2 separate regions of the Homo sapiens genome follow, and region 1 is reported to be linked to region 2. The links are microRNA targets in miRTarBase. Many come from high-throughput screens and were not tested one by one. Region 2 holds a microRNA gene; the other region holds the end of a gene's coding sequence.

Region 1 (5,388 bases), not on the chromosome of region 2:
GAAAGTGACGGGTAAAGAGGAGAGATAATGATGGGAAGGAGAAAGAACGTGCCAAAAACTTATCTACTAGGATAAAGAGAACAAGATCAACAGCTAAATGCTGGAGTTAATTCCAAAACTGAATTCAGCCCAAGGAAATAACCATTTGGTGAACTTCTGGACAAGAAACTGAGGCAAGGATGCAACGAGTCCATTTTAGTAATTAGAGATGAGAGATTTATCCCTGAAATGTGGCATACAGCTAGCCAGCAGGAAAATGAACCTGGTTTAATTAGAGGAGAAAAATGACTAATTAGTCCAGAAAGTCATCATGGCAGAACCAAAAAACTAGACTGATGTGTTAGGTTAAGCCTAGCTGTCTTCTAAAACAATGCAGTGTAACTTTAACTTTCCTACTATCTAGAAAAGAGAAAACTCTGCATTTTCTTAAATGGTATTGCATTTAAAGGACTGGTGGGCATATATGCTGATGATCCAATACAGAGAATTATTGAACAGCACAAAGAAAATAGGGTGAAGACCTAAGATCATATCCAGAGAATGGGGGCCCTTCCTTCATCCTTCGGCTGACCTGACACACACTAACTCGCTTTTGGTCATAAATGAAAGACAGTCCTTTTAAGCAAACGGCAATATACTGGCTCTTGGGTTCCCAAGTAGGGTGGACCCACTGAAGAGTGAGCAGGGCAGACATGCAGTGAGCCTCAGCATCACCTGCCATGTGGGACTCAGGTTCCTCCAGGATTCTGTCCATTTCTTCTGCCTGCTTCTTCTCATCACCCAGCAGCTGCTCCAGAGGTTCTATTGCTGATTGATCTTGAGTTTCACAACCTGGAGTTTCCACCACAGAGATGGACTGTATCTCTTCTTCAATTGCAGCTGGGAAAACTCGTTGGGGAGAACTCGAATTTAACCTTGCTTGGGTCACTCAACAAAGGTTGAGAAAGTGGGATTGCCTAAGAATATGGCACATATTTACAGTGTGTGTATGCTGGGGAAGGAAAAAGATGAGAACAGAAGAAAAGCCGGTAATTCATTGTAGGATAATTTCAAAAATAAAAAGTGCTGCTCCTAGAAAAAGAGGGTGCCCACGCAGACTAAAAATTTTTAAATGTATCACTCAGGCATTAGATGCTGGAAGGAAAAAGGTTTTGATCTTCTAGAAACATTCCAGATAAAAATGGATTTTTACGACCAGCATCTCTTATTGGGTCATTTGGTCCAGAAACTGATATCCCCAGCTGTCTGTGACAATGCATAGAGCCCCAAATCAACAGTCCATCACCTGGAGAGGTTTCTGGACTCTAAATCCCTGGGACCAGTGATGCCTGTGGTTTTTGCTGATTCCCAGTAACTGAGTTTACTTTGTGCTTTCAGCTGAGCAAAATGTTCTGGTGATTCTACTTCTTCTAGTTGATTCTTCAGAGTCAGAGAAATTCACAATCTCTCTATGACAACAGTAAAGGAACCTTTTGTTAGAAAATCCAAGAGTCACTGACGACATCAGCTCGAAAGTGCTATTTATTTTATTACCCATTATGAATCAGCCATCTCCTGATTTATCTTTTACAGTTTTCTATGTTTTGAATTGATATCAATTCTTAGAATAAAATGCAGTACCTGCATCTAAAATAGAATTTATTTTTCTTGAGACACGTCTTTCAGGCAGAGGAAAGGTAATGGGCACACAAACCTTGATCATCTTCTTATAAAACAAGGCAGCATCCACATTTCAATACTGTAGCATATGAAATAATTTCTCAATTCCTACTCTGTCATAGCTTAAATGACTTACTGATTAAAATATGAGTAACAATAATTCTGGAGCTGAAAGACATTCTCAAGCCAAAAGGTAACATTAAACAATGTTTTACTTTAAATTTAATGTCATGTAGGGTCACTAAAAACAAAATGTAAGGGATAAATGTAAGTGCATAAAACAGAGATAATACCAATTTCCACAAATACAACTTTTATTATCCAAAATCATCTTGGAAGGACTTTTTCTAATATGCCCATTTTCTAAATAAGATTAACCATTTGATGGGAATATTTCCAATTGTATCACCTCCTTCCTTGACTTTTTCTTCATCAACTTAGGGCCTGGGTTGTAGGCACTGTGGCTCTTTGGGATAGTTAAATGGGTGCAATTTGGCTGAGACCGCCCCTGTCTTAAATGGCCCAGGCTACAGGGCTTGCCAAATGGCTTTGGTTTGCAACCTCTTCCTTTGATATCCATTGAAGAACACATGTCCTACCCTCTTGATTGCAAGCTTCTATCTGCTATTGGCTATCAGGAGCATAACAGATAAGTTCTAAGGTCCTTCCAGTTCCAAAAGCCATTGACCAACCCTGTGAGGCACTATGAGAGATTGGAGATTACTGAGGAATCTCTTCCAATAACATATGATATATAAAGGTAATTGTGATTCTATGAAGAGTGAATAAAAATTGAAAACAAAACCAATCTTGTTTAAACTATTAAATGAAGTTTTAAAAAATAATGGAGTGGGTAGATGTATTGCCTATCAAATTAAAATTCAGTGAACACGTGTCAGTTATCACCTTCATAAGTATGATCTATAAGGTTGAATTAACTAAAGATCTAACCCTAAACTAAGTGAGATATTACTGGGTTACTAAATATAGATGAATGGCTTCCTTTTTCCTTTAAAGATGGAAGAATCCCAAAAGTATGCCTGAATCAGAAGCAGAGGACTCATGTTCTAATGACACGTCTGATCATCACCCTGAGTTCCATAAAGCTATAGCATATTGTAGTAGAAAGTATATCAGCATGTGAGTGGAGAGATTTAAGGGTATAGATCTCTACGTATTTCCAGCTCTGTCACCAACTGGTAACATGACTTTGGGCAGAAACTGTCTTATTGATTCTATTCCCTTACTTATAATATAAAGGAGCATAACTAGATAAGTTCTAAAGTCCTTCTAGCTCCAAAAGGCATGATTAACTCTGTGAGGCACTGTGAAAAAACTGGAGATTATGAAGATGAATCTCTTCCAATAATATGATATATAAAGGTGACTGGGATTCTATGAGGAATTAAATGAAGACTATAAGTGCACGATCAAAAGAAAAACTGTAACAGAACCTACTAATCAACTTAAAATAATCTGCTCCAGGTTATAAAATCTGAAAAGTACTATAATGATTATTCTTGTCATAACTGGTCCCACTAATATAATTTTTAAAACCTGAGAGCTGAAGTCAGAGTACATACTCACCTCTTTCAAATTATATGTGTGTATGTGTGTGTGTGTGTGTGTGTGTGTGTGTGTGTATGTGTGTATTCCTGAGTCACCATGAATACCTTTAAAAAATTCTAGAACTTTGGGCCAGGCATGGTGGCTCATGCCTGTAATGCCAGCACTTTGGGAGGCCGAGGCAGGCAGATCACGAGGTCAAGAGATCAAGACCATCCTGGCCAACATGGTGAAACCCCATCTCTACTAAAAATACAAAAATTAGCTGGGCGTGGTGGCAGGCGCCTGTAGTCCCAGCTACTCAGGAGGCTGAGGCAGGAGAATCACTTGAACCTGGGAGGTGGAGGTTGCAGTGAGCCGAGATGTCACCACTGCGTTCCAGCCTGGGCGACAGAGCAAGACTCCATCTCAAACAAACAAACAAAAACTCTAGAACTTTGATTAAATTATATTTTTTGGGTCTATCAATTGAAGTGGAATTGGACTGTGGATTCCTCTGTTGAGAAACCTGTTAGATGTTTATTTGGGTGCTGACACAATTAACTACTTTTGTGACCACAGCCAACTGTAACATCTATGGTGGTGATAAAAATAAAAAACTCTGGCCAGGCGTGGTGGCTCACGACTATAATCCCAGCACTTTGGGAGGCTGAGGCAGGTGGATCACTTGAGGTCAGGAGTTTGAGACCAGTCTGGCCAACATGGTGACACCCTGTTTCTACTAAAAATACAAAAAAATTAGCCAGGCATGGTGGCAGGCACCTGTAATCCCAGCTACTTGGGAGGCTGAGGCAGAAGAATTGCTTGAACCTGGGAGGTGGAGGTTGCAGTGAGCTGAGATCACACCACTGCACTCCTCCAGCCTGGGCGACAGAGTGAGACACGGTTTCAAAAAAAAAAAATAAAGAAAAAAGAAAAAAGAAAATACAAAACTCAAAACTTTTTCTTTGTTAGACTTGATGTCAAGATCAGTGGGATCAAGGAAAAATTAGGTCTAGGGGATTCAAGCATATTGAACTCATGATCTGTAAATTGTAAATGACAAGGATCTCTTAAAATAAAGACCTTTCTCATGATAAAGGCACAACCCAATAATATAGTTAGCGTTCATCTGCATTTCTCCTCTTCAACTTGATCCAGATGCCATTACTTGGACGAAGAATCAACTGTCCTTCTAGACCAAGCTCTTCTCTTTTCTGGTTGGATTCTATCCAAAAGTGCCTCAGGATGCACGAAAGAATGGTCTTTTCTTCCATCACAGCAAACTTTTGACCTTCAAATTAATGTAGATACCATCGCTTTAGTTATAGATTTACCCCAAATGTGAGAAACAAGAGGTCCTGTCATAGGAAGCGAGCCACTTTACATTTTCGCAGTAGGTGGAAGGAGAACCAGAATGGCTTGGAACACCTGTTAAAGATGAAGAGTCTTGAGTTTCCCTCCCTGATCCCACCTTGCACATCTATAGCTGGGGAGGATCAGAGAATTTGTACTCCAGCTGATCCAGATAAATCCTGAGCTCCTTCAAGCTTGAGACTCACTACCCTAGATTATGTCTTAGTGGGTCTTTCATTTACTATGGATTCACCAAAAAAGCTTCAGATTCACCCGTTTCACTCTGGCCTCATTTTACCGATGTCTGCATTTACATAAATGACAAAATGCTAGAGATACTAAAACCAAAAGGGTTTATAATGCAGGGTGGTGATGTGCATTCATTTTGCTTAAGTACTAGCTGGCCATATGGCAAGCATTTGCTGTTTTGATTTGCAAAATGAAATTCTTAAAAGCAATAAACACAAAAATTAGGTTAACCATAAGTAATCATTAATAAAGTTTTTACCACAATAAGTTATATTCTACTGTAATTAAAACTCTACAACATTTTGAAACTCTACCATGAAGCTAATTATGTTTTATGTTATGGGTAATTGTGTCTCTCTCCAAATTCTAAGCCCCCCCCATACCTTAGAATATGACTGTATTTGGAGACAGGTAATCGAAAGAGGTCAGTAAGTATAAGTGAGGTCATTGGGGTAGGCCCTAGTGTAGTCTGACTGGAGAGAAGATCAGGACACAGACCCACACAGAGGAAAGACCAAGTGAAGACATAAGGAGAAAATGGCATCTACAAGCCACGGAGAGAGGCCTCAGGAGAAACCA
Region 2 (5,388 bases):
GTGAGACCATCATCTCTACAAAAAACTAAAAAATTAGCTGGGCTTGTTGGTGTGCACCTGTAGTCCCATTTACTGGGAAGCGTGAGGCAGGAGGTTGAGCTCCGGAGCGTAAGCAGCAGTGAGCTATGATCACACCACTGCACTCCAGTCTGGGCGACAAAGCAAGACCTTGTCTCTATTAAAAAGAAAAATCTGAAACCCTAAATGGAGAAGGAAGAGAGATGTTGAGTCAGCCCACTGGAGCAGTAGTGGAGAACAGAATGCTGGCAACTTGAGACCCTGCACATTTTGGCCTGATGCTTCCAACTTTCATATTTAAATTACTTTTCTTTAACTTTCTTAGTTCTTTTTCCGACCATCAAACTGAAGGTCTTAGAGTCACAGAGTTGCTTTATTTCCATTTAACCAAGAGCAATGTCATTGTAGTACAAAAACAATTCTTTAATGTAACTGTCACTTAAAAAAATACCGGGGAAATAATTGTAGCCTTCATTTCTCTCTGCCTTGTTCTGTACTTAGGTATGTGACACTTTCCACCATAAAATTGCAAGTCCTTAGTCCCATTTCTTATTTATTCATCTCTGTACCCTTATGTCTATCATGTTGTAGGTTCTGCATAAATGGATTTTGAAGTGATTAAAACCACCATTATTCCTGGCTCAATCAGCTGGTTGAAGAAGCAGCTCTCCTATTTCACCTTTCCTCTCTCTTCCAGCCCCATTGCAATCAGAAGATTATTTATGGAAAAAAGCAAAATGGAGATATTTAAAAGACGGAGAGAGACAGCAGAAAGCTGCTTAAGAAATTGCTTTGAGTCCACAGGAGGGAAGCACAAAGGAGATGGGATAATAGTGTTATACACTACATGGTAAGTGTAATAAACTCCAAGCTGGGAGGACAGCAAGGGCACTCTGTGTGGGTTAATTGGTGCCCTGCCTACGCTCGAGAGAGAATAAATTTTCAACCACATCAAAGTCTTCTCCAGAAAAAAAAAAAAGCTCGTTAAAAATCCCATTTCCAGGAACCCTGGCAGCCAGACAATAAGAAGGCTAAACAACAACAACAACAACAACAACAAAAATCACCTCTATTTGGCCTACTACTCCCTCAAACATTAAACTATTTGCCTTGAAAAGAACAAAGAAAGTATGTAAGTAATATGTTTAAATTCAACGTCTTAGAAAGTGGAGTGATTTAGCTAGGGTTGGCTTCGATCAATCTGAGACCTCCCAAAGCCTCAAAATGTATTATTTAGAACTGTGAAAAAATTCACCTTTAGATACTCCTCTGTCCTGTCCTCATGAAATATTTACAGTGTGGTACATAGATGCATACAAAATTGTACAACTCATGATGGGGAAAAAAGGCAGATTGCATTCATTTTCGATGGAAGAATCGGTAGTTCATAGTTTTTCTCCCACAATTTGCCTCATTTATCCCAAGATTGTGTATCACTGTGAGCTCACTGATGGCAGGGAACATACCTTACTCAATTTTTAAGACTTTTACAATTTGGAATAATTTTAGATTTATGGAAAAGTTGCAAAGATATTATAGAAAATTCTCATATATCCTTCACCCAGCATCCCCTAACATTATCATTTTACATAACCAGGGTACATTTGTTAAAACTAAGAAGTTACATTAGTACAATGCTATTAATTAAACTACAGACTTTATCCAGATTTCGCCAGATTTTCCACAAATATCCTTTCACTATTCTAGAATTCAAGCCAGGATACCACATTCCATTTAGATCACTGTTGCGTTTAGATCATTTTTGCATTTAGATCTTATTCACTTTTATATTTCTGGTACCCAGGATGGTGACTAATAGGTACTCAATGTATATTTGCCGAGAGAACAAGCCAGAAAATACAACTAGAATTGAATGCTCAGATACTGAAGAGGGGACTGGGGTGGGGGCCATGGAAGTAGCAGACCTGGATCTAGCACTCAGCAGGGCCTACTTCTGTCTCAAAAGCTTCAAAAGGGTGGAGGGGGCAGGAGACAGTTTCAATGAGCTGAAGAGTGAGTGGGAAGAGGAGACTGAGTGTAGAGAACTTGCAAAGCAGATTGTCAATGAAAGCAAAGGCAGAAAAGATACAGTAATTGAAGGAGAATAAATGTCATAAAAGTAGTTTTAGGAAAGGGAATAGTGAGCTGTTTTGTAGTCTGAGAAAAGGGAAACTTGAAACGGTGGGGGTGTGTTGGGGATTGAAGACCCAGTAAAGAAGAGATGATTGCTGAAATAATGCCCAGGAAAAAGCAGGGGGAATATGATTTGGAGTCTAGGTGGAAATGGGGTCTTGCAGAGACTTATGAAAATTATTGGAATATCTGCTATGTAGTAAGGAAAATTAAATCAACTAAGAATGAAAGAAAAGAATGACATCATTATTGAAAGCCCAGAGATAATCAGGTTATTATATTTTGGGTCTGGCACTAATGACACTTAGTGCCACTCTTAGACTGCCAGACTCCCTGAGGACATGCAGTTTCAGGGAGTCTGGTAGTCTAAGTGTGGCACCAATGCGAGTCTTTTTAAATTCACTTTTTCATTTCTGTTCATATGACTACATCATCGGTCAAATCATTTACTTTGTCCCAGGATTTGGTAACAGGCTTCATTGAATTCATAATGAATAACTTTTGTTTTGTGTTGGGATTCCATAGAGTAACTTGGATATATTAACACTGGAATTTTTCTACGTTGTTTATAGCAAATTATTCTAGTACTATTTATCCTAATAAAAACAGTAACTATAATCAGAATTTTTTGAGCAGCTACTATGTTATAGCAATGTACTAGACATTTTGTGGACTCTACAAGACATCTCCATTTTAACTGTGGGAAGAGTCTTGGAGAGAGTCATTCTTTCAACAAGTATTCATGAAGCATCCTCCATGTGTCAGGTTTCACCTGAGGCAATTGGGATACATCAATGAGAAAGTGAGACAAAGATCTCTGACCTATGATGTCACATTTTAGCAGAAAATCCAAGTGGGTAAATGGTTTACCTAAATTCACAAATGTAATAAGTAGCTGCAATGACCTTTACTAATTTTTGGCTGCCTTGTGTCCATTTCACCTTCTTTTGGAGGGGAATTTTACTTTCCCTATTTGATGCAGTTTTGTAGGAGTGTTAGTCAAGGTATCCTGTTTTCCCTAATTCCTATACACTACGTATATGAATAGTCTTGACTAGGCCAGTTGAATGCTTTTTTTTCTCTGAAATATGACTCCTGTATATAGAGAAAAAAGTACTGAGAATCATTGAAACTTATCCACCCTTCTAGTTTCCTAAGATTTTTTCTAAATGAGATCCCTTGGTGTGTTTATAGGGTTTGTCTTTTCCAAGACTAATTTACTAGACTTCCCTTCAATTCAGAGAGCTCCTCCAAAGCATTCCATCATCATCATCATCATCATCATCATCATCATCATCATCATCATCATTTTTGCTTACACTAGCTTTTGTTAGTTTCTGTTGCTTACTATCAGGAACCTGGATTTGTGATTCCAGAATCAATCCTTTGACTACACTTAGCTTCACTAACATACATTCTGTGATACATTGGAATTCCTGAGAGATTGTCCAAGGATTTTTTTGTTAGCATATATATTCTGACTGGAAAATTTTCTGTCTTTAGACAGAACTGGGCATTGACTTATCTGTGTTTCTTGATTTTGAGCATGACTTAGAAAGGATGTCCCCTGCTTCATTTCTCTTGGGACATGTAACAGACTAGACAGAATACCCAGTCAGCTTTTACTCAGTTGGCCTTCCTACCATTGTGGAATTTGGCATTTACAAGTGGTTGATGCAATGTTATTTCAGCATGGGCCCAGTCAACAGCTCCCACCACCTCTGGAGACTTCCATCGCTAGAATCTTACACTGCAGACCCTGTTCATTGATATTCAGGTGACACAAGCACAAGAGGAATAGCTGACATTGCTGTCACTTGCAGGGTCATCCTATATTTGTAGAAACATGGAATTATTGTTGCTAGCCTTGCTGCCTTGCTGCAGCATTGTACTAACCCCAGGGCACCATTCACATTGTAAGCATCATGAGTGGCACTCCCAGAGTCCGAAAATGATGCCTGGTGTGGAATTGGCTTCCTGTCTATTTCTTCCTGCTTGGCGTGTTCTCCTGGATGCTGGCCCAGACTTCTTTCTTAGGACTCTGCATGGCTGCTTCCTCATGCCATCTCTAGTTAAGGCTCAAAACTTAGCTCTACGCTCAGAATTTATTTTTCTCATCTGTTTTATCTAAGAGCTAATTCCTGGATATGCCATGTGTGTGCAGAAACTCTCACTACTCTTCCCCCTTTGCCTGCCTGACTCCTGATATTGCCTCTCCTTGCTTTCTCTGTTGGGTGCACCAAAGACCTGCTCTACCAGTACAGTTCTCTGTAGGTGTAAGTTCAGGCCCACTTCTAAAATTGGTGGAGCCCAGTGCAAGGCTACAAGTGAGTGCCCACATGCTATGCTGTCTAAATATTCACAAGTGATACTTCAAGCTAATAAAATACCTTCTATCCACCTACCTTGACTAATATATCTTCATAATGACTTGGAAGGTCAGGGGTCTTGGACTTCTGCAAGTTTTGCTTCTGAACATAGCAGCAGGGAGAACCTGTCTTGCAGTTCATATTCTGGCTCTGCCTTCTCTTCTCACTCTAGGTCTGTCTTATACAATGAGAGGTCTCACATGCATGTGTGTGGAAACTCTATCCCATATTTACAATCCCCATTCGCATCCCCACAAATGGCTCTCTATTGGCCATTCCCTGGGCCTAAGGATGTTCTTGTCATTGGTGTGTTCTGTTCTCAAGAGACAGGGCCTAGGGAAGAGGCATTCTCTGGCTCTAGAAGTGAGCTCAGGGACACTTTGGCAGAGAATTTTGGGGTCCAGGTACAAGAAGCCTGGTCTAGAGGGAGAGAAGCAGGTTGAGGGTGAGCATATACCCTTGGCTCCAGAAAGGTCTTGATTTGTGAGAAGGAAGATGGCTAGAGAAGGCCAGGAGTCTTCTTTGCCCAAGCTTAAGTATGCAATGGTAAAAGGTAGAGCCAGTCTCATGCTTCTGTAACGCTGGGAGTACAAGCCAGTTTAGCCATGCTCTTCCTCTTCACAAGGGACATTTTGGGGCAATGGGAAGTAATGGTTATCTTTATACTCGAGGAAAAACTGTAAAATATGGTGTTTCTGACCTACTTCTCAGAAGGTGGTGATCATAAAAAGTATTCCATTGTCTCTGGATCTTGAGGTAGTTATGTAAGCAATATGACTAGCTGTTTTAGAATAGTACTGTGGACACAAATGCCAAGTCCAAATAAGAAACTCTTCAAATATCACGTGTAGGGGAGAAAACTCTACAT

The links. The annotated mature microRNA hsa-miR-7702 reads CUUAGACUGCCAGACUCCCUGA and lies in region 2 at 2,467-2,488, shown strand. An mRNA with a match to its seed (bases 2 to 7 or 8) in the 3' UTR can be bound and repressed. Matches are read on the target gene's strand: a 7mer-m8 pairs with bases 2 to 8, a 7mer-A1 pairs with bases 2 to 7 and ends in A, and an 8mer does both.
Region 1: the mRNA of CYP4V2 is a reported target of hsa-miR-7702. Seed matches in the 3' UTR shown: 7mer-m8 at 4,176-4,182.

What each region holds. Positions count from the first base shown.
Region 1 is chr4:186,209,579-186,214,966 of GRCh38, reverse strand. CYP4V2 (cytochrome P450 family 4 subfamily V member 2) reads right to left here. Exons shown (of 11, transcript NM_207352.4): 11 at 1,504-4,498. The coding sequence ends at 4,326. It also overlaps a transcript of KLKB1 not described here. Among named protein-coding and RNA genes, the nearest start is that of KLKB1, 15 kb to the left of the region's middle.
Region 2 is chr9:111,268,293-111,273,680 of GRCh38, reverse strand. MIR7702 (microRNA 7702) reads left to right here and starts at 2,467; the gene lies at 2,467-2,525. It overlaps LOC105376219 (a long non-coding RNA gene), which reads left to right. Exons shown (of 2, transcript NR_188622.1): 2 at 716-1,138.